7 linked regions of the Homo sapiens genome follow. The protein of the gene in region 4 interacts with the protein of the main gene of each other region in a biochemical or structural test. Each region holds a gene or a part of one and is shown on either strand. Other genes may lie near its edges.

Region 1 (4,411 bases), on a different chromosome or scaffold from region 4:
TGCCTGGCTAATTTTTAAAAAAAAATTTTGTAGAGACAGAGACTTCCTATGTTGCCCAGGCTGGTCTGAAATTCCTTGGCTCAAGAGATCCTCCTACCTCAGCCTCCCAAAGTACTAGAATTATAGGCATGAGCAACCACACTCAGCTAAGTGGTCCTATGCTTATAAACAGATCCTTTGGAAAAACTGAACTGGATCCCAAAAGAGATTCACCTTAATCATGAATTCTACTTACTCCACAGGTGAAAGTTTCACAGCAAGATTTTAAGTAATATCTGCAGTTCATCTGAAAAAAATTATATCATATTCCATTTAAGAACCCCAACACTTAAAAACTCATTACACTTAAAAACTCATTGGAAATGCCCTTAAAAATGGCCAACAAAGAAATCTGAGCTAGAAGTCTCTGATGCAAGAAAACAACCAAATTTGATGTTCCCTTGCCTCTAAGGAGGCAATTTATAATGTTCAAAACACTTTATATACATTCTGTCATTTGACCCTCAAAACCCTGGAGACATGTCTGTCTTCCATCAGGGGAGCATATATCTAACATAGCTCAACTTGAAAGCCTACAACTTGTGAACTCTCAACTATCTTTGCATAGAGGGAATACTGACATAGATAACTCTATTCAGCTAAGCACTACAGAGCCCATCACCTCCCATCTCCCAGTGGGGATGCTCAGGCCAGATCCTACCCTGGGGAGTTATCGCCCATGATTTTGCTTTGTGGTAGTTGCAGACAGCTCACTATCTGCAGGCATTTAGATCTTCATACATCTCATCCACCAGGCCTTTCGTGTTACTCCACAAGGACTCTCCCTTGAACTCACTGCATCTGCTAGGATTGTCTTTAATGTTTTTGCACTATCATCCTATGGAACCTCCCATTTCACCTGTGTCAGTGTTCCCATGTGAAAGAACATGGCACTGTAAATAACATGCATGAGGGCACACAAACCAGCCAGGAAATAAAAATTTTCCAGGTCTGAATCCTGGGTCCTGCTGTCTTGGTTCTGTGAGCTCCCTGCCCTCAATCTCCTTTCATGTACATGGAGCTCCCTGCCTTCCTAAGGCTGCCAGAAGGCTGGAGGCGAGACCCACCCCAGAGTAACAAGTCCAGAGTGATGTTTAACAACTGTGGATTCTCTGTCTCCCTTTCTCCCAAAGGAGAAACAGATTGTTTTCTTTTTAAATGAGAAAGGTAAGACAGGACCCCCTACCATCAAAAAGCCTACAACCCATCTGCAAAGCCAATAGGCGAACAACTTAATAATAAAAAGCAAACAGAGAAAGACATTATAATGAATGTACAATGTACTAGGGAGACTAAAAGGAAAGAAAAACTGAAATGTGGAAGCGGGAGTAAATCAGAAAAAATGTTCATAAGAAAGCAATATTTATTTAAGCTAGCCCTTGAAAGTCAAAATTTCAGTGGTGGTGGTAGGGTGAGGGAAGAGGCAAAATTGAAACAAAGTATCAGGGACGGGCAGGAGTTCAGTGGTATTAGCAGAGACAAGGAGAGGACAGCTGGGCCTGCAAACAAGTTAGGGTCCAGATCACAGAGATTCTTGAAAGCTAAGAATAAAACAGGGACAGCTACTACTCTTATCTGTCCTTATATCAGGTATGATGCTTTCAGCTGCAAGTAACAAAAATACCTAACTCTAAGTGACTTAAATTGTGGTATCAAAGCTTTTTTGATCACGCAGGACTATCAGTTAAAAAAAAAAAAAAAAATTAGCCAGGCACGGTGGCTCATGCCTGTAATCCCAGCACTTTGGGAGGCCGAGGCGGGCAGATCACTTGAGCTCAGGAGTTTGAGACCAGCCTGGCCAACATGGTGAAACCCCATGTCTATGAAAAATACAAAAATTAGCCAGGTGTGGTGGTGCACACCTGTAATCCCAGCTATTCAGGAGGCTGAGGCAGGACAATCACTCGAACCCAGGAGGCAGAGGCTATGGTGAGCTGAGACAGCACCACTGCACTCCAACCTGGGCAACAGAGAAAGTTTCCATCTCAAAAAAAAAATTTTTTTTTAATTAAGCCAGGTGTGATGGTGCACACCTGTAGTCCCAGATACTTGGGAGTCTGAGGGGACAGGATCACTTGAGCCCAGGAGTTGGAGGCTGCAGTGAACTATCATCACACCACTGTACTCCAGCTTGGGCAACAGAGCAAGACTCCCTCTAAAAAAATAAAAAGTAAAAAATTTTAAAAACGTATTGAAGCTCAGGAATTTCAGGGGAAAAAATTTATAACATATATACTAACATATTATAAATTGTATTAATTTATGTGTAATTAAAACTAGTTATGAATGGTATGTATACACACACATGAATGTAGTATATACATTATACAACATTTAAAACTTTTAAAGGATGGGAGTCAAACAGTATTTTTAAGTTCATTTTTATTAATAATACAAATCCAAACATAATTTTGTTGTTGTTGTTGTTGTTTTTCAAGACGGAGTCTCATTCTGCCGCCGAGGCTAGAGTTCAGTGGCACAATCTTGGCTCACGGCAACCTCCACCTCCCAGGTTCAAGTGATTCTCCTGCCTCAGCCTCTCGAGTAGCTGAGATTACAGGTGTACACTACCACACCTGGCTAATTTTTGTATTTTTAGTAGAGACGGGGTTTCACCATGTTGGCCAGGCTGGTCTTAAACTCCTGACCTCAGGTGATCTGCCCGCCTTGGCCTCCCAAAGTGCTGGGATTACAGGCATGAGTCACCGCGCTCAGCCCATACATAATTTTTGAGCCACCTTCTTGTCAAATTTGTTTTAAAAGTCATGTTCTAAACTCATAAGAACATTTTCTTGTTCCTTTATACTTATATCATTATCATTACACTTTCTTTGCAAGAATCTTTTTAAACCACTCGCCCATTTTCTGGGGGTCAGTTTAGTTAAAACCAGATAATCTAGCCATAAATGTATTTAGATGGATAGAGTTCACCAAAGGCAAGAATAAGAATGAGGGTACCACTGTCAATTCCACCAGGTTGTAAAAGGCCCAGTCTTCCCTCAGGCAACCTCATATAATGTAAGTTGATAAAAGACTACCAGATATACCAACCAGTGTCAACTCATACATTAAATATTTTAAAAGCTTAATTTTTTCTAACATTCTTGAATATTTTCTTCCCTCCCATATTGGATGATCTAGCACACTCCACTCTGGGGACCACTGATCTTAAACAATAATGAGGCTGGGCACAGTGGCTCACACCTGTAATCCCAGCACTTTGGGAGGCCAAGGTGGGAGGATCCCTTGAGCCCAGGAGTTCGGGACCAGCCTGGGCAACATGGGGAAACCCCATCTCTACAAAAAATACAAAAATTAGCCAGGTGTGGTGGTGCACACCTGTAGTCCCAGCTATTTGGGAGGCTGAGGTGGGAGGATCACTTGAGCCCAGGAGGCAGAGGCTACAGTGAGCCATGATCATGCCACTGCAGTCCAGCCTGGGTGATAGAGTGAGACCCTAGCTTAAAAAAAAAAAAAAAAAAGATAAGAAAGAAACAATAACGAAAATGTTTTTTCTCACAGAAGTTCTGAGTCACAGTGGTTCTAGGGCTGGCTAATCAGCAGCTAAAATAAGTCATTGTGGGCTGGGGATGGTGGTTCACTCTGTAATCCAGCACTTTGGGAAACTGAGGTGGAAGGATTGCTTGAGGCCAGGAGTTCGAGACGAGCCTGGGCAACATGGTGAGACCCTGTCTCTACCCGCCCGCCTCCTACACCCCTGACACCGACAAAAAAAAAAAAAGTAATTGTGGTCTTAGGCCACCTTTAGTCTGCACTCGGTGCTACTTGTTCTCTTGTGCTGACAACCTTATGCTTCAAATATGCCAGGACCTAACAGGCGTCACATACATATTCATTAATGAGTCACTGGCAAAAGGTATGGCATTACTAAAATTGATGGCTTAATCAAAATTCACTCCCTGGGGCAGGGGACGCATCCACCTTACCCTTAAGTACATGGCCAGTGGAAAACTAATCAAAAGCAGGATTATAGTAGTAAGCACAGTCACCCCCCTCCACACCCAACCCTCCATATCTCAGGTTCCATGGCCACAGATTCAACAAACCTAGGTTAGAAAATATTCAAAAAATATTCTAGTAACTGACCACTGGAAAAAAGATAACAATACAATAAACACAATAAAATACAATAAATACAATAAAAATATAAATTTTAAAACAATACAGAATAACAACTATTTATCTAGCATTTACATTATATTAGGTATTATAAATAATCTAGAGATGATTTAAAGTATGAAGGAGGACTGGGGGGTTGGCTCATGCCTGTAATCCCAGCACTTTGAGAGGCCAAGGCAGGAGGATCACTTGAACCAAGAGTTGAGACCAGCCTGGTCTGGTCTCATAGTAA
Region 2 (3,832 bases), on a different chromosome or scaffold from region 4:
CCCTCACTGGGGTGCATTGTAGCTGGAAATTCTCTTTATAAAAATCATTCTTGAGCTCCAGCCTGGCTATCTCTTTCAAGAAACATGGCCACTCTTTAGGAATGCTGTTGCGTTTGCATTGCCAACTAAAATATTAAAATATGCATTGGGGCTTCTTCATTCCTTTATTTTGAGAACCTGATGCACAAAGAGCTCCTTTGTTCTTTTCGAGTCCCACCACTGGAAGAGTGGTCCATAGACCCCATGAAGACATTGTCATGATTTGAGAGACTGTTGTTGAAAGGATTAACACAATCTTAATACACTGAAAATTTTAACTGTGTCAAGTCAGCTTAGTGGAGATTTAGCTATGCCAGTGAGCAGTGATTTTAACTATTCTTGGCTGCTTAAACAGGGCAGCTATGAACTATGACAAATGTAGATTTTTCAAAGCAATACAAAATACTAAAAAAGAGGAACCTTAATGAATATTAACCACACAGTCTTTCTTAGCCATTCCAAAAAGAGGCAAAGCAATTCTTATTTTCTTTTTTAAAATAATGATTAATATGATTTTGTGCACTTCATACTGTCACTTTTTAAAACTACAGAAAAGAGATTTAGAGTATAACAGAAACAAGTGTGCTTTGATAGTCTCAAATAGGTAGAATTCATAGTTCAAGACCTGAATCCACTGTCATCTCTTTCTTCCTCCCATTGCAGCTATCCTCAGGTACCAAATGTTTTGATTTTTAAATAAGGATAGTAATAAATGGAGGAGGTGTCCTATAAATTTAAAGTTCAGTTGACCCAGCCTTATACTTAAGATAGCCTTATGAAAAATATGTGCTGTGAGGCAGAAGTATATTTTGGCAGAGAGAATAATAAATAAAACTTTTTCTTTTAGCTCAATATCCTTACTTTGGTAAGTATTTTTTTTTATTTCACATCTACTTAACAGAAAATAAACTGAGAAATAGAAGTCAGTCCATTGGCATAATTTATCATTCTTCACTTTAAAAAATTCTAATAAATATTCTGCTTGAGTTTTCTTTTCTGCTATTTGTTCTTACTTGCAACTTTAAGTCAAACCTCCCAATACAAAACATTAAAAGCTAACATTAATGTACTAAAGTATTAATTTAAAAGAAATCGAACCTCCCATGCTAGATTTGAAAATAACATCATCACAGCACCCTGATCCCAAATATTACACCGAGGCTTTTAAAATGTAAGTGAAATCTAGCTAAGTTTCATGGTTTCATTAAAAGCAAATGTCTGCCTCTATCTGAAAAACAAATGGAAATCTTTTGAGGTGTTAATACCCTTTGGATCCTCATCAAAAGGATGGCATTCACCTGAGGATTCCTATCTTGACTTCTTAGGTATTAAAAACCTTTCTTGATATGCTCTACATTTTAAAATTTGTTTTATAAAATCCTTATGTTGATTTTCATTTTATTCTCAAGTACAATACGTTTCACTCTAGACCAGTTGAAGAACATGTTTAAACTTTGTTCATGGTCAAATTCATTTTCTATTTTTTTAGTAACATATCTCTTAAAAAGCACACTACCTTATAAAAAACTTCATCAGAAATTAAATTTAATGCAAGTAAATTGCCATCTGATACTTCCACATGCTATCATAATCAACTGTAATAATAAAAATGATTTATCCAATTAGAAAAGGACAAGATATATTTTTCTCTGTATTTCTATAACTTTTGCCACTCCATTGAATACATTGTATGTTGGACATAAGATTATTAGTAATGCATTCTTGAGATCTTTTATTTTGGAATGATGCTAACTCTGTCTCTTTGCCAATTCTAATACCAGGTTCCAAGTAATAACTCTACAGTACAAAGAGAACTGAATATTCATTCTAGGGCTATAGGATATGAACTTCACAATTCATTTGGGTACATTCTCATTGAATTTCCTTCAAAACAATCTGTTCCTGGTGCCCAGTGATAATTCAGTCGGGACCAGCATGACTAAAAGGAAGGGGATATGCTAAGGCTCAGCAAAGTGACCCTAAATGAGAGATATGTCCCAGGATGGAAAGAAGAAGACGTGGTTTAACCAAGTTATACTGACTAATCTAAGCAGTCCACTCATCCTTCCATTTTGGGAAAGGAGTGGGGGCAGCCTAAGAAGAACATATCTGGATTGGGAAGAACCGTCTTTCTGGGCTAGGGATGGGGAACAGAAAGGGAGTATGGAAAGAAAAATTATAAGAGATTTGACTGAAGCAAGGAAAAAAAGCAAATCCCCAAACGTGCTAATCCTTGAAAGTAACTATCTTTCCCAAACTACTGCTGTTACCAGCAAGTGATCAGGAAGACTAGGAGCTATTTCTGACTGTAAATGAATTGTATAATAGCTCTGCTGCAGTTCTGTGACTTCCAAGCCAGGAATTAAATGCTCTTTTTAAGAATAACAAAAAACAAAAGCATTTCCTATGCTAGTCTCCCAGTAAAATGTACATGTTTTGGAGACTTCAAAGGTATTATGTGAGTTCACATTTAGCAACAGCTTATTAATAACCCTCAAGCTGTCAGAATCTCTATAGTTACCATTTACAATTTTATACTGTGAAAAAATACAGATCAGTGAAAGCATAAAGACAAGTCAGAATTCACTTTGAAGAGGGTCTGAGGCCTGGGAGAGTCTCTACTGTCTATTGAAGAATGAGGCATGTATAAAATAGTTGGTTGAATTTCACTGATCTTCCCAATGTGAACAAATATACTATGTATATTGTGTGTATTTCTAGAAATCAATGGCAGCTGCTGATGGTGTTGTAATTAGAAATCTATATAGATTATAGATGTTTTAGAAAGATGGTGCCAATCCTAAAAGATTTGTGTGGGCTAAAAGTGCTTGTACTTACTTTTTTCTGCACTTATAACTGATTTGGTTTTAAAATTGTGTGCGTGTATCTGTTCTTTCTCTGTTGTGGCAGCTTGTACTATTAAAATAATAGAGAATGTTAAATTATTTTGATGTGAACTGCAAATGATTTTTTTTCATAAAGTTTAACATTTTTATCAGCATTGTTTTGCTTTGTACTTGTATAAATATGTTTTATTTTAGCACTTCAAAATATACTTGCCTGTTTCTCAGTTGTCTAAATCATGTTGTACTTGGTGTTTGTGAAGCCAGTTACTTTTCAAAAAAATTAAAAAACCTATAATATGATTTTAAGATTATTCCCCTCAAATGTTTAGAATGTTGTCTTAATAGTGTTTTCTGAGATGAAAAGAGCCATGATACTAATTAATCTTGAATACTGGATGATCTATACATTTGAATTATGGGGTTTACAAAGTAAGCAGTGGACTGTATAGATTTAAATGAAAATATAAACCAACCACAAACCAACCAGAGATGTTGTCCCCAAACACATCTACAAACAACTGTTACATAAAGAAGTACTTAAAAAAATATATAGGAAATATGCATTGTTTATGCATCTAGACATACAAATTATAGAAATAGTTTCATAATTATATGTGTTGATAGAGGTAACATCACACAGATAAAATAGATTATTTGTGTGTGTATAGATGTGTGTTTACAAACATACATATTTATATAGACATTTGACTTTTGAGTCCATCTGCATGTGTCTCTGTGTATATGTGTGTTTGTGTGTAGATGTATGTGCATATTACATAATTTTTCCAGAAAAAAAAAAAGTTTTACTTTGACTGATTCTTGAGCAAATATACATTCCCTGGACACAAATTAGTGAAAAACTAACAGCAGAATATAAGGTAGATGCTTGATGTATGGAAGAGAAAAACAAGGTATATTTAAAAATATATTTGATTTATGCTTCTGAC
Region 3 (4,998 bases), on a different chromosome or scaffold from region 4:
AACAGAATCCAAATGTCAGTATCAAATGATAAATAAAAAACTAATTGGCAATAACTAATAAAAATTCACAGTGCTCTCAGTGAAAGGGGAGGTAGCAAACAATTCTCAACCCACATCTCTGTGACAATGAGAAAATCTATTTACCCAATTAATTGGGCAGCTCAAAATACTCCTAAGGTGACTTTCAGAAAGTAAGAATCTCTGGGCCTCTGGGTGGGTGGCCTGGGACACTCTTCCTGGCCACAAGCAAAATAGTCACAGCTTCCCAAGGCGATCATTGACCTCATATAGTCTGTAGTAGCCCAGCTGAGGTGCTGGGCTTTGTTCTAGAACAGCTTTTAAAGAGAAAAAGGGTGCCTCATGAAGATAAGGATTCTACCTTGCAGGAGGAAATGCTCAACCATGTGAATTAGGACTGGCAAAGTCACCCCAGAGCATCCCAGGACCCCACCGAACTCAGAGTGGGGGGTGAAGGAACTAAGACTGGGGTTTGTGGGGTGGGTCTTAAATTCATCAGGTCTTGTTTCATCAGGCAGACTTCCTTAGAATCAGGGCCAACCTGGAATAGGGATAGCTGAGGATTCCAAAACACTTTCAGATGTAAGACAAAAGGGGTCCATTGTTGAAGACAGAGAGTTAATGCATTACCTATAAATTTCACAAGGCCAGTAAATGCCACCTGGACATTTCTCAACAATTATTTGTTAAATCAACTCACAGACTATAACTGTTCTTTTATGTCATTAACACAATTCCAGTGTTTCTCAAAGTACAGTGAAGGGATCCCTGGCATCAGAATCACTTGCGGGTGCCTGTGAAAATGCAGATTCCTAAGGTCCATCCCAGACTCCTAAATTGAAACCCTGGGACTGAAGTCCTGCCCAAGAACTGAATTTCTAAGAAACAGCCTAGTTAATTTGGATGATTCATATCAAGGTGGGAAAATTATTATGTCTACATTGTCCATTAGAAATTTAAAGACACTCACAGATTAGTGTTTTGCATGTTTTCCCCAAAATGTTTATATACCATAAAATTGAAAACAATACTTCTTGTGATAAGCCCTTAAAAACCATTCAGTTTATTCCGCCCATATATAATGAACACCATTATTGAAATGTAATTATGAGCATAAAATTATTGGGAAAAATATGAACTATGCTTCTCAAAAATACTGCCTTTATTTTGTCACTAAAGTAATTGTGCTATTAAAGGAATTTATTGTTTTTTAAAGTATCAGTCACTTGGCTGCAAGAACTTATTAAGCTATTATACTCCTCCCATACCCTTTTAGTCATCAGAATTTTTGTGATAAAGCCTTTTTATTATTTTAAAACTATAAATTGTGAATCATTGCAACTAGTGATTAGACTGACTATGAATATATGTCCAGGTTATAAATTCCTAAAAGTATGTTTCATTAGAAATACCAAGGCAGTCTTAATTATAGCCTCTGCAATAAAGCTCTGTTTACTTCTATTAAGGTAGGTTTTTTTTTTTTTTTGGTGCAAAATGATTCAGTTTTAATGCATTATTTTAACAAGCAAAAGCAAACAGTTTCTGATATACATGCCATACTGCAAAGCTGTAAACCCGTGTTGCATGGTGATGTGACAAGCACCACATTTCTGGAGGGATTTTTTTTTCTCTCCTACAAGCTCCCCCTCCCCAAGCCGTGGCTATAATTATTTCACAAAATGCAGTTTGCCATTTCTAGAGACAAACACTTCCTTCTCCCTCACCAAAACTTCAAGTTCAGGCCAAATATTGAATGAAAATAGAACTTGAGAGGCAGGCTTTGTTTGTAGCATGTTGTTTCTGCTAAGAGTTGCCCCCTACCCAGGCTCCACCCCAGTGGTCGGACTGAAGTGTACATGTTATGTTTTAACAGATGGGCCGGCTGGCGGCTGCTGGGCTGTAAAACAGGAACGCGGATTCTGCACTGAGTGGTATTGAACTGAACGCTCGTAAAGTTCATGGACATACTCTGACCCAGACAGACCAGGCAGATGCAGACATGCTTACGCATACACACTCACTAACACCCCACAGCTCAGAGGATCCATCTCTGTGACCCAAGGGAAGTTCAAGGCTGAATTTCCCCTTCATATATTTACCTCATTCACCTTTTAATTTTATATATACACACACTCACACATATACACGTATGTATGTGTGTATATGCGCATCTACATCTTCATATACACATACAGAACTATATATCTCAACATTTTCATGTATTTTCAAAGGTCTAAACATCCCCAAATTCTGGACCTGTTTCTGTCTAGTATTTTCAAAAGCTCTTATTCATGTCAAATAAGAATTGTAAGAAAATATCGTATTGAATTCTGTTTATTCCGCACATAATATAAACTACATGCATGTAGTTGGTCTCAGAAAAACAAGCTGCTTTTACCCCCTTACCATTAAGGGGGGAAAACAATCTAACCCAGACCGAGTCACAAACGGAGTGTCAGGTTTAACCTTGAGTTCTCTGCTGTCAATTCCTGACTCAACTTCATCACTTAAACACGCAGGTGCTCAAACAAACACCAACCGACCAGGCTGGCAATCCCTTTCGCAGCCTCTAGGATTCTCCAAGGCACTGGGCACCAGAACCGACAGCAGCTCCCGCCTGGTCCTAACGAAGTCCTTCGGACACCCCTTGCGGGTGGATGTGGAGGTCCGAGCACCTCAGGAGGGTCATGGATTCAAGTGCTAATAGAAAGCAATTACTTTAGAAAGTTCAAAGCCCAGCAGTGCTCTCAATTCCTCTCAGTAGCTGCAGAGCACTGAAGCCCCCGCTACAGAACCCGGCTGGTACTCCAGTTCTCTGGCGCTGAGACCCACCTTGAGCCCGATGAGCGCTCGCTCAGCCTTGAGATCCAGACGCGGACGCCGGGTCTTACCGTACCGCACAGCGCGGGTAATTTTTCAGGAACCGCGGTCCGCACGCCGCGGGCGCGGAGGCCGCCCCAGCGCTCCATGTCGTTGCCGCAGAGGGGCAGGGGACGCGTCCCGGCCCCACCTACCCATGTCAATTACGCCAAGTTGGTGCGGACTGGAACCGCGTCCCGGGCGGAGTTGGGATGCTTTGACAAGAAGAAGTTCGGGAGTGGGGATATTGGCACGGAGTAAATCCCGCCCAGCCCTGACCTCCCCACAGCGGTCACGCTCGGACGAACGGACCGCCGAGCGCCAGGACGCGTCCCGTCCCCTCTCGCCGCCGCCGAACCGCGCCGAGAGGAGCCGCTAGCCCGGCGCGCGGCCACTCACCGTCCTCGCCGAGTCCCGATAGCAAACCGACGTCCCTGCTGCGGTTCTAAGTGCCAAGTTGCCCCCAGTCGGTGGCTGCTCACGGCCCAGTGGACCAGGGCACATTGGTTCCGGCGGGCACCTCAGGGGGAGTGCGGCAAGCCTGGCGGCCGCCGCGGCCACACAGTCGCCCACAGCGCGCTGACAATTCACGGACCTGCTCAACGAGTGAGGCGGAAAGCAGGGCTAAGCCGACCAGGCTCTGGAGGGGAGGCGGGGCTGCCGCTAGGGGCGGAGCCAGCCCCGGGGCGTCATCAGCCCATGACTGGCGGAGCCGACAGCCAGTCGTGGTGGCGCTGGGACCGCCCCGTAACCGCCGTCCAGTCGCCTGCGGCCGAGGGCAGGCTGGCGGGACGCGCCGGCGGCGGGGAAGTTGGTTATTGCGAAGTGCCGTGGCTGCCGGCGGGCGCTGCGGGACTCTCTGCAATGGGACCCGAGCAGCTCTAGAGGGAGGCGGCGGCCCCAGAAGGCCGTTGGCTGAGAGAGACCAGGAGCCCTCGGAGCCGCCGCGCGCATAGCGCTGTGGAGCAAGAAGCCAACCGCAGCGCGGGTCGACACGCCAGTATCTGGCACCGGCAGGAGGCGCGGAACTTAGCTGCCCCATCGGAACCCCGCCCGGAGGAAGCTGAGGGCCGAGAAAGGATGAATTCCGGACCGGGTCGCCCAGCCACAAGTGGAAACCTGGGCTCTCTGGAAAACGTTCTGATCTCGATCTGGCTATCTCTGAAACAAAACTCCAGCCCCGCAAACCTCCCAAAGTTCAGTACACGTCCCCGTCCTCACCCCTGCCCTCCGGGCCACCTGCAGCGGGGGACTTACCGGCGCCTCGGGTCTCCTCCTCCCGACCCAGCGCGTCGCGGACACAGCTGGCGGCCAACAGGAGGCTTGGGCGCTCGACGGCGCCGGAACCTGTGAGACCGTCGCTCTGGGCGGGCTGCCGTGCGGGGTGGCATCCTCTGCGGTGACTTCTGCTGTCTTTTGGGTCCGCCAGGATTCCAAAATCCCAGGCGGGTCGCTAGAATTATCCATCTTCGTGGACAGGAAGCCCCAGAACGAACCACATCTGTCCCACTCTGCTTCCGCCCTCCTTCCCCTTCGCAAGCTCCTGGCTGGGATGGAGACATCGGACGAGCTCGGAGATCCCGACCTCTCAGGGGTCACTCGCAGCCGAACAGCCTGGAATATGGCCTTGTGGGCCCTTCCCGCCCAACCCCCTAGGACCCCACTGCTCATCTTGTCAACCAGTTTCTGAGCCCCTACCCTGGCTGCAGCACGTGCTCGCACAGGCGCGCTGAGCTACTAACATAGAATCAAAAGCAGGGAGTTGGGTGTTCTTGCTTTCCCGCTGAAACCTAGAATGTAAACAAGCCCTAGACCGTCAGCTGTGGGTGGGTAGGGGCCTCTCCCTGCCTAGAACTGCTCTTGCCATGGGTAGGCACCTAACCCGTATTAGTAAGAATGAAGGAATGCATGCTCATAACAAGAAAGGGGTCAACCTGCTGCCCTGATACTCACCTTCACCACTTACGTCTTGCTTCCAGCGCAAGCCCACTTCAGACCATTGCCTCATTCAGGTCCCAGAAGTCCTAAGGGTTTTAGTCTCTCAGTATGGGCAATTATTCACATGTAAGGGAGCTGCAAGGTGTTATTTCAATGCCATCTGGCCTCTATAAGGTCTTGCAT
Region 4 (4,411 bases):
GACAGACGTGGAAGCATCGTGCCTGGACTGCACTCTCCATGAGCCCTGGACTCTGGGCAAGGGTCTGAGGGTGCCCCCCTCCAACCCACCCAGGCAGGCTGCTCCTGAGGTGGGGTGAAGGCATCCGATGGCTCCTGATCATCCATAGGGTCCCTGCCTCCATCCTGCCTGAAGCACCTCCCTAGAGGAGGATATCAGCACCCCCAGCCCCCACCCTGAGGGATGTTGGACCCTACTCAGGGCAGCCAAAGGCCAGGCCAGCTGAGCCCTGACAAGCAGACACAGCTGCAGGGGAGAGGCACTGGGCAGGGGATCCAGCTCAGCCACTTCCCTCTGGTCAGAGGCTTGGCTACTGACCAGACCCCAGGAGGCTGAGCTCTCCCTTGGGAGCAAGCATCCCCCCGGCCCATACCTGAGGATGAGGGAGAGCCAGGCAGGTCTAGGTGAGGGGAAGTGAGGAGACCTGGTGGGGAGGGCTGGTGCCCGCTGACCCATGCCTGTGGGAGAAAGATGTCTCTGAGGCAGCTCCAGAGGGAGGACAGTCAGATAGCCCTGCAGAGGGCCCCTCTGATCTGGCCCCAGCCTCTCTTGGATATCATTCTGTTGCCCTTGCTCATGCTGTCATCATGATCTTCTGGACACAACTCCCATCTTTCCTGTCAGCATCTCCTCTGTGACCGAGGCCACAGCCTTTCTGCGTGGGGTCTGCAATGACCCAGCCCTGCAGGGGGACGACCCCTTCTCTGTAGATGGGCATTTGGGGGTGCCCTGCCGTGAGAGAGCCTTGCTGTGGGGGTGTCCTGCTGTGGGGGAGCCCCATGGGCAGTTCACTAGGACAGAACAGACATTGCAAAATTCGCCCTGGAAAGAAGTATGCTGGTACCTGCAACTTTCTTTGAAATGCCCGGCAAATGAGATGGATTGATGGATGTGGAGGGATGGAGTGTGATAAAGCAAAGCGAGTGAAATGTTATGGTACAGCCATGGTGGCGGGTGTTCAGGTATACACTTTAGAATGTTTTCTACTTTTCCTGCCTAGAAATCTGCAAAAATGTCTATAATAAAATGTTGGGGATCACATAGAGGAGTAGGGAAAGTTGATTTTCTGCAGGACAGGCCTGGCTGGGCAGCTCAACTTGCCCCCAGGAGTCCCCTCTCAGTCTAGAAAACTCTTTTGCTTTCCTTCACTGATGTTGGTTTTTACACTTTGTTCACCTCTACACTCAAGGCAGCAATACACTCCTGTCATTAATAGAGGCTATGGCAATGAGTCTGGGGGTAAGGGCTATGTGTATTTTAAGAAATCTCAAGTAGCTCTAAGATGCCCCTGCGGGGCCTGGAGGGCAAGCTGGACTTTGCAAAGCAGATGCTGTGGCTTCCTGGCAGTCCAGACGTCTGTTTCTATATTGTCCTTTCCTGTCTCTGCAGATTCCAGGGCAGGGGAAGGGGCGCTGTGGGCACAAGGTGGCCAGTATTTTAAGAGGGCACCACAGGCTGGGTGTGGTGGCTCATGTCTGTAATCCCAGCACTTTGGGAGGCTGAGGCAGGCCAATCACTTGAGGTCAGGAGTTGAAGACCAGCCTGGCCAACATGGTAAAACCCCCTTTCTACTAAAAATACAAAAATTAGCCGGGCATGGTGGCATGCGCTTGTGGTCTCAGCTACTGTGGGGAGACTGAGGCAGAAGAATCGCTTGAACCCAGGAGGCGGAGGTTGCAGTGAGCCGAGATGATGCCATTGCACTCCAGCCTGGGCATCAGAGCAAGACCCTGTCTCAAAAAAAAAAAAAAAGAGAAAGAAAAAAAAAAAAGAGGGCACCACAGCCCCTAGGGCTGAAATGGCAGGTTCACAGCAATTGGAGAGGGCTGTCCTGGTCTTGCCGTCATCACCCACGTGGTGTAGGGCAGTGTTTCCGTGACCCGTAATGTGGTCGTGCAGAAACAACTCAGTTCCTGGGCTGCATCTGCAGAGCCCATCTGGGAATGGGCTGGACACTGGTGACTGGTGACTGCAGGGCATCCTGGTTTGGAAGGGGCTTCCCTGTGAGGGGACTGGCAGGAGCTTCCACCCATGTCTGTAAGCCCAGAGCCTGGCCAGAGGCCCACCCAGGCTTGGCACCTGGGGCAAGGGACTGTCCCCAGAGCCTCTCTGGGCTCCTTCTAGGATGGTTCTCGGGCCTTGGCCTGAATCTAGCTTCTGCCAACACTAGGAGCTGGCTTGGTCCTTGGGTTATAGCCAGGAAGGTGACTGGGATGTGCCCAGAGAAGCCCAGAGGACTGGCTGGTGGGCATGTTTGGGAGGCAAAGCCAAGGAACACTTCCAGCCACAGCTTGTAGGGGGTGGGGTCCGGAGCCTCCTCTTTCCTGTGATGTCCCTGAAGGCCAGGCCTGCATGGCACTCCTCATGATGTCATGGGGGTTGGGGACCTCCAACATGGTATGGTGGGAGTCAGGTCATAAAGCCATTCTATGTGATATTAGCAGGGGCCAGCCCATTCCATGTGATGTCACAGAGGGTACAGCCAGAGTCTCTGGCATTCCATGAGGTATCTTTAGGGGTGGGGCTGCTAATGTCACTAGGGGCCAGCCATCAAGCCTTTTTAGGTGACATTATTAGAACCTCTGAAATTTTGCATCTCATGTGATATTACTGTGGGCAGGGCCACCAAAGCATTCAGTGTGCTATTACTGGAGGCCGGGGGTGCAGAATTTGGCATCGTGCATGATGTCCCCAAGAGTGCAGTCTGAGCCACGATGACATCCCAAGTAATGTCCCAGGAGGTGTGGCCTTCCTGAGATTCCATGGGGAATTCCCGGGATGGAGTTGCAGTGGCATTCTGTGTGGTTACACTGAAGATGGGGCCTCCAGACTGTAACATTCTGTGGTATTATCGGGGCTCAGGGTTTGGGAACTGGCCCCCGCACCTGCACCCTGCCTTCTGGAGGTATGACATCAACTACAGAACCCTAAGCCCTGCCCCATTTCCCAGCTGAGTTTGCTCATCCAGGCAGGGTTGTCGGCTACCTCACTCTCTCCACATCTGCCAGGTAGCACAAAGCACCTGGCACTAAGATGCTTTTGAGTGGGTGCATTTATCCTGCCCTTCAGCCTGGCAGTGTCTCTGGGATGCTGCTGTGTCTTAGCTGCTGCATCTCCCTTTTCTCCTGGAGTCTGAAAAGTGCTCCATAGCTTTGCAGGGTGCAGGGGTTATAAGAGGCTAATCAAGGTTACAAATAGCCTGCAGTTTTTTGTTTGTTTGTTTGTTTTTAGACAGAGTCTCGCTCTCACCCAGGCTGGAGTGCAGTGGCATAATCTTAGCTCACTACAACCTCCACCTCCTGGGTTCAATCAAGAGTTCAAGCGATTCTCCTGCTTCAGCCTCCCGAGTAGCTGAGACTACAGGCACATGCCACCATGTCCAGCTAATTTTTTTTGTAATTTTGGTACAGACGGGGTTTCACCATGTTGGCCAGGCTGACCTCAGGTGATCTGCCTGCCTCAGCCTCCCAAAGTGCTGGGATTACAGGCATGAGCCACCACACCTGGCCACCCTTTTTTTTTTTTTTTTTAAGACCGAGTCTCCCTCTGTCACCCAGGCTGGAGTGCAGTGGTGCAATCTCAGCTCACGGCAACCTCTGCCTCCTGGGTTCAAGCAATTCTCCTGCCTCAGCCTCCCAAGTAGCTGGGACTACAGGCGCCCACCACCAGGCATGGCTAATTTTTGTATTTTTAGTAGAGACAGGGTTTCACCATATTGGCCAGGCTGATCTCGAACTCCTGACCTTGTGATCCACCCACCTTGGCCTCCCAAAGTGCTGGGATTACAGGCGTGAGCCACCACGCCCAGCAGATGCCTGCAAATTTTTAAGAGACAGAGTCTCCCTCTGTCACCCACGCTGGAGTTCAGTGGTGAGCGATCATAGTTTATTGTAACCTCAAACTCCTAGGCTGGAGTGACCCTCTCACCTGCCTCCTGAGTAGCTAGAACTACAGCCATGCACCACCACACCCTGCCAAATATTTTTATTTTTGTAGAAACAGGGTCTGGGCTCCTTTGCCTGGGCTGGCCTCAAACTCCTGGCCTCAAGCAATTCTCCTACCTCAGCCTCCCAAAGTGCTGGGATTATAGGCATGAGCCACCATGTCCAACAGCCTCCAAACCTTAATGGCTCAGAACAACAAAAGTTTCTCATTCATGCAACGTCCAATACAGTGCTCCTTAATCATCTCTCCTCCTCTCCATGCCCTGCATTCAGTCAGTCAACAAGCAGAGAGTGTGCAGGATCACAAGGATGGTTGCTAGAGGCAGACCTGGAAGGAGCATACATTGCTTCCACCCTCATTCAGTTGGCCAGAGCTAGTCCCAAGGCTGCAGTCAGACACAAAGCTCTAAGCAATGTGGTAGTCATGT
Region 5 (4,411 bases), on a different chromosome or scaffold from region 4:
CAACTAAGTGACTTTGCAGATTGGCTCAAACTCATGCATTCATAAGGTTGGAAAGCAGATCACTAGAACAGATTTGGGGTACCTGGAAGGTTTTTCTTTCTTTCTTTTTTTTTTTGAGACAGGGTCTCACTGTTGGCCAGGCTGGAGTGCAGTGGTGCCATCTCGGCTCACTGCAACCTCCACCTCCTGGGTTCAAGTGATTCTCCTGCCTCAGCCTCCCCAGCAGCTAGGATTAGGATTACAGTCATGCACCACCACGCCCAGCTAACTTTTTTTTTTTTTTTTTGTATTTTTAGTAGAGACTAGTAGTTCACCATATTAGCCAGCCTGATCTCAAACTCCTGACTTCAAGTGATCTACCTGCCTCAGCCTCCCAAAGTGCTGGTATTACAGGCATGAACCAGCACACCCAGACGAGTTTTTCTTACTTAGGTGAAAGCTCAAACCTTTGCTGATACTCACCCTATCATGCTCCACCTTACCCCCCAACCCCCACTCAAGCCAAAGAGAACAAGATGACCAGAAGGGGCCCTAAGCCTTGGAGAGTGGAAAAACTGTGTAAGGTGATACTAAAAACAAGAGGCAATGCAGGCTTGCTCATTTTCATCCGTTTACTCAAAGGCCATTTAATGAGTACCTTTCAAAACTGTTCTGGGCAGTTCCCCTGGGCAGGAGGGGCCCCTGCTCTGGGCTCCACCATTTAGAGAACCCTACTGAGGTTGGGCACAGTGGCTTATGCCTGTAATCCCAGCACTTTGGGAGGTGGAGACGGGAGGATTGCTTGAGCCTGGGGGTTCAAGACCAGCCTGGGCAACATGGCAAAACCCTTTCTCTACAAAAAATACAAAAATTATCCAGGCACAGTGGCATGCGCCTGTACTTCTAACTATTCAGGAGGCTAGAGTGGGAGGATGACTTGAGCCTGAGAAGTCAAGCCTGCGGTGAGCCGAGATCATGCCACTGCACTCCAGCCTGAGTGAGTGACAGGGCAAGATCCTGTCTCTATTAAAAAAAAAAAAAAAAAAAAAAAAAAAAAGAGGATCCTACTCTGGCCCTCCTTTGGCCACACCCCTTTCCCCGGGGCAAAGAGCCTACAGGGCCAAGAGGATATGCCCATCCAGATGGCAAGGACCCCCTCACTGCCACACTATACTATAGCTATTCAGGATCTCTTGCCCTAATGGTTCTGAGTCTGCTTCTGGGGTCTGTGTGGGCCTTTTCCCTGTTCCATCTTCCCAAGGATGGACCGCAGTGTGATATGACCACCTCTAAGCCCAAGGGGCAGCCATTCGTGAGGGGGATGGGAATGGAGCTTGGATATGCAGTCAGCATTGTCCACGCCTGTGCACATGAGGCCCCTCATGGTGCAGACCTTGGCTTCAGGCCAGCTCTTCCAGTGCCTCCTCATTCTGACTCGGGACTCCAGGGATTTGGAGAGTTACAAATGCAAACCTGATCTCCCAGGTTGTTTTGAAGGTTTATTGGTCAAAATATTAAGAGAGAAACTATTTAATAGTTTGTTAGCTGATTTATAATGTTTAAATATTTAGACATATAGTACGTGGATCTCTTTGTACTCTTGCCCTGGGCCCCCAAAATGTAAGATGAAGGGCTGGTTCATAGTGCCCTAGGCTCCCAGTTTTCTCTGAGCTTCAGAAGCTCTAGAACTTTGGAGTGGCATGTAAACAGGCACAGTAAGTGGTAAGTATACCCTAAGAGTTTCGTACCAAGTACAAAAGGACAAGAGTTTTCTGGAGTGGTTGAGAAAGGCTTTCACCAAGAAAGTGATATTTGCACTGAGTCTTAAAGGATGAGTAGGCCTTTGCTAGGAAGAGCAGGTCATTCCAAGTGAAAGGAACAGCATTTGCAAAGGTATGAAGATGTGGAACCCTGTGTATTATTGGGGTGGGGGCAGATGGGAGGGCGTGGGTTGCAAGTGTTTGCTGATAGAGGAAGCATTCATTCAAGCACCCATAACTATACCCATCCCATCTTCCATCTCTCACAGGCTCTCCCCTACATCATTAGTTTTCTGCTTTTCTGTAGGTGACACAGGCCCCAGGAGGCTGGGAAGTCCTGGCTGTTGTGGTCCCTGTGCCCCCCTTTACCTGCCTGCTCCGGGACCTGGTGCCTGCCACCAACTACAGCCTCAGGGTGCGCTGTGCCAATGCCTTGGGGCCCTCTCCCTATGCTGACTGGGTGCCCTTTCAGACCAAGGGTCTAGGTAAGGGATGCATAGAGCAGAGCGGGTGGGCAGGGCTGGAGCCGGGAAGGGGGCCGTGTTGGCTGGAGTTCTGAATGGTGCTGGTAGAGATGGAGGTTCAGGCATCATTCGGCAAACATTTACTGCATATAACTACATACCACCTTGTAAGTAGTTCTTGTAGGTGGAACAGATAAGCAAACTGGAAAAGATCAGATAATGTGGTTGATAAAGAGTGTCCCCAGGTGGTTAAGGAAACCCCCCCTAAAAAGGTCTGAAGGATAAAGATCTGAAGGATCTGGGATCTGAACGATAAAGAAGAAGCCATGTAAATATCTGGGGGAAAATCACTGCCGGAAGAAGGCACAGCAAGTGCAAAGACCCTATGACAGGAACTTGCTTGGCAATTGCAAAGAGGCTGGCATAGCTGTGAGAGGGGAGTGGTAAGGGGTGAGGCAGAAAGGCAGTAACCATGGTGATGAAGAGCAACACTGCCGAGCTGGGGTGCTGCCTGTCCTGCCCATTGCTTACCCCTCCCCCAGCACAGTGGGTGAGAGCAGTCAGAGCTGGGAGGTGAACCCTTCCCCAGTTTGTGCCTCTCAGAGCTGTTTAGTTCTTGGGAGTTGATTCCAAAGGTCTGCATGGAATTATGATGGTGGGAAGGGCAGGGGTCTTAGCAATCTTCTCTCTTTGGCTGCAGCCCCAGCCAGCGCTCCCCAAAACCTCCATGCCATCCGCACAGATTCAGGCCTCATCTTGGAGTGGGAAGAAGTGATCCCCGAGGCCCCTTTGGAAGGCCCCCTGGGACCCTACAAACTGTCCTGGGTTCAAGACAATGGAACCCAGGTAAGACAGAACCCTCCCCTCTCTCCACTCTCCTGGAGTATAAGCCTTCAGGGTTCTAAGGCCTTTAAGAATTTCAAAATGATTGTCTTTGGTGGGCCTGGGTCTCCCGCAGCCCCAGGGAATCCTTTCCTCCTCACCCTCCTCTGCAAGCTCCACTTCTCAAAGGATTATGTCTCCTGTTAGGGTTGCATCCTGTGTGCACTTTGTAAATAAAGCAGGAAGCACATTCCTGCTTGAGCTGGGGGAGGGCACAGATAAGGCTTTGTCCCCAGCTCAGTTCGCTCCCATCCCCCACCTGTGCATTCCGGGACTGAGCCTTGTTTGTGTTCTGGAGAGGCCCCTGCAGCCGGGAACAGGAATGTGATTACTCCCAGAAGGTTGTGTTCCTGCAGCCCCTGAACCCACAGTGCCCCTATACTCCCATGTTCCCAGCTGGACCTTTTTCTGTCCTCAGGCCCCAGCTGGAGGCCTTCTCCCCAGGCTCACTATGGGGTGGGGGCTTTTCCTGGCTGCAGGATGAGCTGACAGTGGAGGGGACCAGGGCCAATTTGACAGGCTGGGATCCCCAAAAGGACCTGATCGTACGTGTGTGCGTCTCCAATGCAGTTGGCTGTGGACCCTGGAGTCAGCCACTGGTGGTCTCTTCTCATGACCGTGCAGGTGAGGCTTGTAGGTGGAGAGGGGCAGAGGCTCAGGGGATCAAGGTTTTCAAGGGCAACCTAGACTGATGGGAGGAGCCTAGTAGCATCTCCCCTCCTAGTAGACCCACAGACAGAGTGAAGAAGTTGAGGCCAGGGCTGTTTAAACTATCTTGGCTGGGCATGGTGGCTCATGCCTGTAATCCCAACATTTTGGGAGGTTGAGGGATCGCTTGAGGCCGGCAGTTTGAGACCAGCTCTGGCAACATAGCAAGACTCTGTCTCTACAAAAAAATTAAAAAAAAAAAAAAAAAACAATTAGCCTGGTGTAGTGACATATGCCTGTTAAGCCCAGCTGCTCCAGAGGCTGAGGCAGGAGGATTGCTTGAGCCCAGGTGTTTGAGGCTGCAGTGAGCTATGATTGCACCACTGCACTCCAGCCTGGGCAACAGAGTGAGTCTGTTGTCTCTAAAGAAACAAACAAATAAGGCCAGGAGTGGTGGTTCACACCTATAATCCCACAACTTTGGGAGGCTGAGGTGGAAGGATTGCTTGAGTCTAGGAGTTTGAGACCACCTTGGGCAGCAAAGTGAGACTTTACCAAAAAAATTTAAAAATTAGTCAGGTGTGATGTTGCACACCTGTAGTCCCAGCTACTTGGGAGGCTGAAGTGGAAGGATTGCTTGAGCCCAGGAGGTTGAGGCTGCAGTGAGCTGCAACTGTG
Region 6 (4,411 bases), on a different chromosome or scaffold from region 4:
TTAATTTTAAAGAAATGTATGTTTTCCTATCTAAAATATTTTCAGCTTAAAAATGTAATATTTATAAAGCCCTCGAGCCTACTCTATACCTTTTGAAAAATACAATGTGTATTTTCTAATGTCTGAGAAGATGACCAAAATTTTGACGTTCATCATCAAAACTATCACAGGGGAATTTTTTAATGTTTTGGTCAAATAAGCCAGGATCATGCTTCTATATTAAACAATTTTCTCATGACAATGGAGACCTAATTCTTATTATACAATCTTTGGTGGTAAGAATAATCTGCTGGGTACTGGGCATTTTAATAGACCATTTCTTCATCAATTCATGGCACTGTAAAAGAGAAACTAAGATGTACAATTTGTACCAGATGTTTCTAAATTGCTACCATTTCTAATAGTCATCAAATATGCCACAGGTAAATACAGCCCTAAGGCCTCTCTTCATTGTTATTACACTATCAGATCAAACAGTAGATTCTGTGGTTTCAAATTTGATGGCTAGGCTGGACGCAGTGGCTCACACCTGTAATCCCAGTACTTTGGAAGGCCGAGGTGGGTAGATCACCTGAGGTCAGGAGTTCAAGACCAGGCTGACCAACATAGTGAAACCCCATCTCTACTAAAAATACAAAATTAGCCAGGCGTAGTGGCACATGCCTGTAATCCCAGCTACTCGGGAGGCTGAGGTAAGAGAATCACTTGAACCCAAGAAGCGGAGGTTGGTATAACTGAAATACCACATCTCTGAATATAACTATATACATGTTCACACCACCACTATAGAAAAACGTCAAAAACTTAATTTGGATATTTTTATTTATTTATTTATCTTTGAGACAGACTCTCACTCTGTCATCCAGGCTGGAGTGCAGCGACGCGATCTCGGCTCACTGCAACCTCCGCCTCCCGGGTTCAAGCGATTCTCCTGCCTTAGCCTCCTGAGTGAGCTGAGATTGGGCCACTGTACTCCAGCCTGGGCAACAAGAGTGAAACTCCATTGAAAAAAAAAAATTGATGGCTAAACTATATTTGTGCAAAATGAAAAGCAATGATAATATTTACGCATAGTTGTTACCAAAATATTCTTGTAGAAGTAGATCAACCTCAAGGGGAGATGTGAATGATCAGGATGCAATCCAGGAGAAATTTTACCCACCACGTTTCATTCAAGTGCCAGAGAACATGTCGATTGATGAAGGAAGATTCTGCAGAATGGACTTCAAAGTAAGAGAAGGGTTCAAAAGTACTGGGGGAAAATTAACAATGGGATACTAAGTTTTGAAAAATGTTCTTTTCCTACTTCATAGCTTGCAAAGCAGTACGTACAATGGACAAGAACACAAATTCTGAAGTCAAACTGATGTGGGTTTGAATTCTGGCTCTGCCATCCTCCAGCTAAGCAACCTTAGACAAGTCATTTAACCTCTCTGTGCTTTTGTCTCCTCATCTGTAAAATGGGATAACAAATACCCCAAAAAATTATGAGGATTAATTGAGTGGATAGGTATACCTAATAAATACTTTTATAAGTGAAGCTATCAGAACAATATAATTTTTAAAGTACAATGCCCTTTTTTTTTTTTTTGAGACAGGGTCTTGCTCTGTCACCCAGGCTGGAGTGCAATGGCACAATCGCAGCTCACTGCAACCTGTCTCCCAGGCTCAAGCCATCATCCCAACTCAGCCTCCCTAGTAGCTGAAACTACAGACGCGTGCCACCATGCCCAGCTAGTCTAGAACTCCTGGGTTCAAGGCGATCCACTCACCTTGGCTTCCCAAAGTGCTGGGATTACAGGCGTGAGCCACTGTGCCCAGCCTTAAAGTATAATGTCTCTCCAATTCTCCTCTATCAAGAAATTCAAGCCACCCTGCTTTCTCTTGGCCTAAAAGAGTCCCTCAGACTAGAAAAGCTCTTTAGAAGAGGTTATATTTTTATTATCCTTATTTTGGAGAACTTTTCCTTATAAAATTTTTTTTCCAGATTCCTTATGAACTCAAGTTAGTGTTAAAGCTTTGGATTCCACTGTTAACAGTTTATGTAAAAACACTTAACAAATTGCCATTTATATGCCAAACTATAGCTCAAGAACACTCTGTTTTAGAAAAATTACGCATTAGATCAGGAAGCCTCATATATATGTGCCTCTGGGACTTCATTTGCAGTCACATTTAGCCAGAAAAGCAATGACTTCTATATTCCTTATGGAAACCAATGTAACATAAATTAATGTTCTAAATATAGAAATTAAGAGTTCATAAAGAGACTGAGGTTGCATGTAAAAGAGTTATGGTTTGAGACAGTCTAAAAATACTATGTTAATTTCAAGGATCTTATTTCCAATGTTTTGTTTAAAAAATTATAAATACTTTTGAGCTCTTGCTTTGCATTTCAATCGCAAACCCACTCAGATACGGGAACTGTTTAAATTCATATATGGACAAATAGGTTTCAGTGATGCAATACTTTAAAATTCTGCCATCTCCTTGTGTTTTTCTTTCTAGGTGAGTGGACTGCCAGCTCCTGATGTGTCATGGTATCTAAATGGAAGAACAGTTCAATCAGATGATTTGCACAAAATGATAGTGTCTGAGAAGGGTCTTCATTCACTCATCTTTGAAGTAGTCAGAGCTTCAGATGCAGGGGCTTATGCATGTGTTGCCAAGAATAGAGCAGGAGAAGCCACCTTCACTGTGCAGCTGGATGTCCTTGGTAAGCCTCCAAAGAGACCCTTGAGAATTCCTTAAAATCCAGAAGTATTGAAAAAAAGAAAGTATTTTAAAAGAAAAGCCCAGCAGACTTCATATTTAAGGTTAATGTCTATACAACCTATTGGAATGTCCATTTTTATCTACAAACCACAGGAAAAAATATATATATATACACACACATACATACATATATAGATATGTGAAGGAAAGTCAGTGAAACTAGAATGACAGATCTATCACCAAAGCTTTTCTGGAAAGAAAATAAATCATACAATTTTAGACAAACCAAATAATGAAGCATAAGCATTTCTAGACGTAACTATAGAGTCTCAAAATGAAAATCTTAGTCTAATCATTTCTCTGGTCTTTGTTTCTCCAAAATGAGGATAATAAAAATAACCAATCTGACTCACAGTATTACAGAATTATCATAATCTGTCAAACGTTAAATACATAGTTTAAAAGTGAAGAGTAGGCTGGGTATAGTGACTCAGGCCTGTAATCCCAACACTTTAAGAGGCGCCAAGGTGGAAGGATCACTTGAGCCAAGGAGTTTGAGACCAGCCAGGGTAACAAATAGCAAGATCTTCTTTGTCTCTACAAAAAATAAAAAAATTAGCTGGGCATAGTGGTGCACACCTATAGTCCCAGCTACTAGAGAGGCTAAGGCAGGAGGATAACTTGAGCCTGGAGTTTGAGGTTTCAGTGAGCTATGATTGCACCACTGTACTCCGGCCTGGGTGACACAGTCAGACCTTGTTTAAAAAAATTTCTTAAAAAATCAAGAGTAAATATCAACTTTTAGCCTTAGACTATGTCCTTTTTACTAGGAAACTAATGTCTAATTATAACCAAAACAGGCCTACTTGCTTTAGAAAACAGGTATGGCTACATTTATGTCTCAAATCTGTCTTAAGTAGAGCAGTTCTTATAAAACTGGTGTCTGGTTTTTAAATTTTACACTTTAAGTGCTTTAAATATACAAGTTGAGTATCCCTAATCCAAAAATCTGAAATCTTTAAGATGCTCCAAAATCGACATGACACACAAAGGAAGTGTTCATTAGAGCATTCTGGATTTTCAGGTTAAGAATGCTCAACAAGTATAACGCTAATATTCTAAAATAAAAAAAAAATCAGAAATCCAAAACACTTCTGGTCCCAAGCATTTCAGATAATGGATACTCAACCCATACCATATTTTTAATACTTTAAGCCATTGTATATTGCATAAGAGATATTTTGCTATAATTCACTATTTATTATACAGAAGTTTGATCAGGTTAAAGGATAAACTATTTTCTTGAGTTTATATTCTACCCAGATCAATACAAAATCTTTAAGATTATTCAATAATATACCAAAGGGCCTCAATCTCAGGGGAAAAACTAGTGGGCTGGAAATTTTCAAAAACACATACAATTTAAGTGATTAAAGTTTAGACAAATCCTATTTGTACCAATGGCTTCAGAAATACTACAATAGTAGAGCTGAAAGAGATCTTGGCTGCCATCCGTTTAATCTCATTTCTCCTTCAGAAAAACCAGGGTTATGGTACTGAACTATCGTTTCCTGTCTCCCCTCAGGTAGCTGAAAATAAGGTCATAATAATTACTGATATTCCCACATTCCTTCAGAGTTTACAAAGTATCTCTTTGTTTATTATCTCATTTGTTCCTTACAATTATTTTGTGTGG
Region 7 (4,174 bases), on a different chromosome or scaffold from region 4:
TGGTTGGCATCACCAAATGACAGGAGGGGAAAAAAGAGCTGGACATTAAGAGGAGTTGGGGCAAATGGAGAAGACACGAGGGAGCTGGGTAAGAACAGGAGCTAGGGAGGGGGGGAAATGGACTGGACCAAAGGGAGGTGGGAGCCCTTAGGAAGGAATAGAAGGGAGGGTGCTGGGAGTAGGGTTGTGGAATGAGAAGAGGAGAGGGAAGCCTGGAGCTGAGATTCCCCCTGACCGGTGCCCCTCCTCCCAGGAATGACATGCCAAGCTCGGAGCTCCTACCTGGTAGACGAGGTGCTGTGGGGCCACCGCTTCACGTCAGTGCTGACTCTGGAGGACGGCTTCTACGAAGTGGACTATGCCAGCTTTCACGAGACTTTTGAGGTGCCCACACCTTCGTGCAGTGCTCGAGAGCTGGCAGAGGCTGCCGCCCGCCTTGATGCCCATCTCTACTGGTCCATCCCCAGCCGGCTGGATGAGAAGGTGGAGGAGGAGGGGGCGGGGGAGGGGGCGGGTGGGGAAGCTGGGGCTGACAAGGAGCAGAATGGCTGCCTGCCACCCCCAGAGAGTGAGTCCAAGGTGTGACCAGCTTCCTCCAGACCCCTGTGGCAGACCGGGGGCCAGACACAGATACATGGGGAACTGCATATCGGAGGTGGTGGAGGAGGAGGAGGAGGAGGAAGGCAAAGCCCCTGGAAATGTGCTAAAGTTGGAAAGTCCCCGTCCCCCAGAACCTCAAGTCTAGAAACCAGTATGGAAGGGAGGGGTCCTGATTTCAGGGAAATGGAGGGTGGGGCCGGGTGAAAATGCCAGTCTGTGTTTGACCTTCACATTTGTTCATGAGTGGATGGATGGACAGAATGATGGACTTTTGGGGGTTGGATGGGAAGATGGTAGCAGATAAAGACAGCTGACAGATACATAGATGGACCAGTAGACAACTGGTCCACTCAGGGCTGCCACTAACCTGTAGAACACCCCTGTGCAAATTTTAAAAAGGAACCCTTTTCCTCCAGACAGATACAGCCCCAAACCAGGGTGCATGGCTTGGGGAGCAGAGTATAGGATGGATTGCAGTCCCCAGTCACCTCTTCTGCCAGCCTCCCCACATATGGCACAACTGTCTAATGACACGGTAGGCCAAGCTGAAGTGAAGGAGAAAGGAGCCGGACCAAGATGGGCACATGAGGAGGGTGCCCTCCTAGCTCCACCCTCACCAGGATGAAGGCGTGCAAGGGGCTCAGCAAGGTGTGAATGACCTTAGTCCGCAAGTTCAGGGAAGCAGGCAGAGCGGGGAGGTGCCTGAGCTGGGGCCTGGAGAGGGGCCTGGGAAAGGAAAACCAGGGATAGCTATTTTCTTACAGTGGAGTGAGATCTTACAGGTATCAGGCACAGGCAGGAAGAGAGAGAGAGAGGTTCTGGGGAGGAAGGGCCAGGAGAGAGATCTAGAAAGTGGGTTCACTAGAGCTGGGAAACAGGGAGCCCCTAGGAAAGCAGTGTGTCCTTGGGGCACAGTCATTCACATCACTGATTGGGTGCCATGTGGAGTGGACATTCAAAAACCTGGTTCCTGTCCTCAAAATAAGGGGCACCTGGGAAAACAGAGGAATCTACCTGTGGTGACTGAACGAGGGATAATTCAAACTGACAACCTGTGCAGTCCCGTGGAGGGTAGGGGAGTGTGGGTGATCAGAAGGCTGGGGCCAGTGTAAGGCATAGGGAATATGTAAGTCAGGAGTTAGAAATCTCCAGTGTGCGTTGGAATCACCTGGAGGGCTTGGTAAAACACAGATTTTTGGGCTCCACTCCAAGGGTTTCTGACCCAAGAGGTGGGGACCAAAACCATGCATTCCTAAGAAGTCCCCAGGTCATGCTGCTGTTGCTGGACTGAGGACCACACTTTGAGAACCTGTGCTCTAAGTGAATACTTGGAAGTCGTTTCAGGACATGGGGCATAGAAACTGAGGAGTAGCTGAGAGGAAGATGAAGAGAAGCTGAGAAGAAGCTGAGGATCCTCACAGGAGCAGACAGAGAAATGTGAAGGGTGGGGTTTTATGTGTGGGAAAGGGACCCGAAGCCCAGGCTGAAGAGTTTAACTTTGGGCCCAGAAACTCAACCATCAATGGAAACAGGGCAGTGACAAGTGGAGGGGGTGTCTGGAAGCTGAGCAGGCCCGACAGAGAGATGAAGCCATCAGAAGGACTTGAGGGGGCTCCTGGGGAGGTCGGGGGGAGGTGGAGCAGGAAGAGTTTTAGGGGCAAAGGACAGAACCCCTTGTAGGACTGGAGGCAAGATTGAATGTGGGAGAAAATCGGAGAGAAGCGATAGGAGTTAGAACATCTGGATGTGTCTGCAGCCTGCTGTCAGCCCAATTGGGCCAGGGGGTCCCAAAGACGCATATTCTCACCCCACCTCCACCTGCTTCCTGATCACATCCCAGTCACCAGCGGCAGCTTCCTGGATAGTGAGGGAGAACAACTGCAAGTTGAGAGAGGCAGAGGGGTGGAAGGGACCTGAAGCTGGCCTGGAGAAAAGCATAGGCCCAGGAGAGCCTGCCCTGGGACAGCGCCTGTCTCCCACACAGCAGCACTGGCCCAGCAAGGACCTCCTCCCTTGGCCCTGGCCACATCCCACTCCTGCCCTTTCATAAGCCCCCTGGGGAAAGCACTCCAGTCTTCTCTGTTCCAGGCTGGGCAGATAGGGTCCTATGGGGCACAGCCAGGGTCCTATGGGCATAGCCAGGGCCCTATGGGTCCTCTGGAAGCAAGAAAGGGGGCCATGGAAGCAGCCCAGACAGCTGGGGTTCACTCAGAGAGGACCCAAGTCCCAGTCCCTTCCTTTCAGTCAAAACACGGATATCTTTGCCTCAGGTCACAGGGCCACTGGGGCCCTGTCATCAAAGATGAGATTCCTGAAGCCTGGCATTGACTGGTCCCCTAAGAACAGATGTTGGGATGGAGAATGGGGATTCATTTGGGTTTCAGTAAAACAGGGGGGTCTGGACAAGAGCGGGTGGGCTACTTGGTATCCACACACACGCACTCACACAGGAGCCAACCCATTGCAGCTGAACAAGCAGAGAAACTCAGTCTGGAAAGGCCCCTCCTGCCTGCTGAAGTCACTGAGACCCTGCCACACCTCTCCTCGCCACTGTCACCACTCAGGGCACCACTGTACAGTGCAACAAGTCAGGAGACCTAGGTCCTACTCCTGACACTTGCTAATTAGCTCTATGACTCTGGGCAAATCGCATATCTGGGCCTCAGTTTCCTCATCTGTAAAAATGACAGCAAACTCGTAATGCTCAATAAATGTTTAAATAACAACTGAAGGAGGCCTGCCAGATGCCTCTTAAGGTGCCGTGCAGGTAAGAATTTTAGGATCAGAGAATCCTTAGGCAAGAAAATTCATGAAACTCCTGGGGCACTGGAGGAGGGGTGAAGCTGAAGGGTGGGAGGGAGGAGACCCCAGGGTAGGTACAGGCAGGTGAAGCGGGTATATGCAGGTGTAGTGGGTATATGCGGGTAGAGGGTATATGCAGGTACAGCGAGTACATGTGGGTGCAATGGCTCTGTGGACACACAGGCCCTCCCCTGACTGCCTGTTGTCCCAGCCTGAGTATCAGTTGTGTTCTGAGGCTTCTATTCTGCTGCTATGGGTCAGAAGGAACAACAATTTCAGCCCCAGGGCCTAGTGGGAGGAGTCAGGTCCAAGACTAGCCTGACCAGGAGAATGAGACGTGGGAAGAGTTGGGGAAAGTCTGGGAAGCTCAGAAAAGGCACTGCCCCTGGAGGCCCATGCCCTTTAACATGGGAGAAGCTGGTGCGGGGGTGACCACAGGCAGCTGGAACCTACCCTCCTTTTCTATGCTTCCCTCCCCAAGTAGGAGTCCAATCAGGAGTTGTCTCAGCCCCGACAGTTCAGGCTGCAGATGGAACCCAGGTGTCCCCTCCTGGGGTGGGTGGCATGGCCCATGGAGGCCAGATGGTGTTTGTGGTGGGAAGAGAGGCCTGGGTCATCCAGAATAGGTTGTCAATCCCCAACCACCTCCCTACTATGCACCCTGAGCGTTTTACAGTCTCATGGTAGGGAAGACACAGCCAAGCCTGCTTTTTATAAAACAAGTTTATTCACATTTTAGAAAAACTAATTCCAGGACAGGAAATGGCCTCCC

What was found.
Region 1: the proteins of LDB3 (region 4) and TANC1 interact in a test that uses a peptide from one of them, tested with the Homo sapiens proteins (one large-scale study listed by IntAct).
Region 2: the proteins of LDB3 (region 4) and GRM5 interact in a test that uses a peptide from one of them, tested with the Homo sapiens proteins (one large-scale study listed by IntAct).
Region 3: the proteins of LDB3 (region 4) and MARCHF3 interact in a test that uses a peptide from one of them, tested with the Homo sapiens proteins (one large-scale study listed by IntAct).
Region 5: the proteins of LDB3 (region 4) and TYRO3 interact in a test that uses a peptide from one of them, tested with the Homo sapiens proteins (one large-scale study listed by IntAct).
Region 6: the proteins of LDB3 (region 4) and MYOT interact in a test that uses a peptide from one of them, tested with the Homo sapiens proteins (one large-scale study listed by IntAct).
Region 7: the proteins of LDB3 (region 4) and KCNJ9 interact in a test that uses a peptide from one of them, tested with the Homo sapiens proteins (one large-scale study listed by IntAct).

What each region holds. Positions count from the first base shown.
Region 1 is NC_000002.12:158,974,944-158,979,354, reverse strand, and holds part of TANC1 (protein TANC1), read right to left. Parts: intron 1-4,411. UniProt on the Homo sapiens protein: May be a scaffold component in the postsynaptic density.
Region 2 is NC_000011.10:88,503,929-88,507,760, reverse strand, and holds the end of GRM5 (metabotropic glutamate receptor 5 isoform a precursor), read left to right. Parts: 3' UTR 1-3,119; downstream 3,120-3,832. UniProt on the Homo sapiens protein: G-protein coupled receptor for glutamate. Ligand binding causes a conformation change that triggers signaling via guanine nucleotide-binding proteins (G proteins) and modulates the activity of down-stream effectors.
Region 3 is NC_000005.10:127,027,074-127,032,071, forward strand, and holds the start of MARCHF3 (E3 ubiquitin-protein ligase MARCHF3), read right to left. Parts: upstream 3,486-4,998; 5' UTR 3,277-3,485; intron 3,233-3,276; exon of another isoform or gene 2,851-3,232; intron 1-2,850. UniProt on the Homo sapiens protein: E3 ubiquitin-protein ligase which may be involved in endosomal trafficking. E3 ubiquitin ligases accept ubiquitin from an E2 ubiquitin-conjugating enzyme in the form of a thioester and then directly transfer the ubiquitin to targeted substrates.
Region 4 is NC_000010.11:86,674,789-86,679,199, forward strand, and holds part of LDB3 (LIM domain-binding protein 3), read left to right. Parts: intron 1-4,411. UniProt on the Homo sapiens protein: May function as an adapter in striated muscle to couple protein kinase C-mediated signaling via its LIM domains to the cytoskeleton.
Region 5 is NC_000015.10:41,565,314-41,569,724, forward strand, and holds part of TYRO3 (tyrosine-protein kinase receptor TYRO3 isoform 1 precursor), read left to right. Parts: intron 1-2,046; coding exon 2,047-2,224; intron 2,225-2,903; coding exon 2,904-3,049; intron 3,050-3,564; coding exon 3,565-3,709; intron 3,710-4,411. UniProt on the Homo sapiens protein: Receptor tyrosine kinase that transduces signals from the extracellular matrix into the cytoplasm by binding to several ligands including TULP1 or GAS6. Regulates many physiological processes including cell survival, migration and differentiation.
Region 6 is NC_000005.10:137,880,876-137,885,286, forward strand, and holds part of MYOT (myotilin), read left to right. Parts: exon of another isoform or gene 1-1,097; coding exon 1,098-1,230; exon of another isoform or gene 1,231-2,508; coding exon 2,509-2,716; exon of another isoform or gene 2,717-2,746; intron 2,747-4,411. UniProt on the Homo sapiens protein: Component of a complex of multiple actin cross-linking proteins. Involved in the control of myofibril assembly and stability at the Z lines in muscle cells.
Region 7 is NC_000001.11:160,087,233-160,091,406, forward strand, and holds the end of KCNJ9 (G protein-activated inward rectifier potassium channel 3), read left to right. Parts: intron 1-253; coding exon 254-585; 3' UTR 586-3,331; downstream 3,332-4,174. UniProt on the Homo sapiens protein: Inward rectifier potassium channels are characterized by a greater tendency to allow potassium to flow into the cell rather than out of it.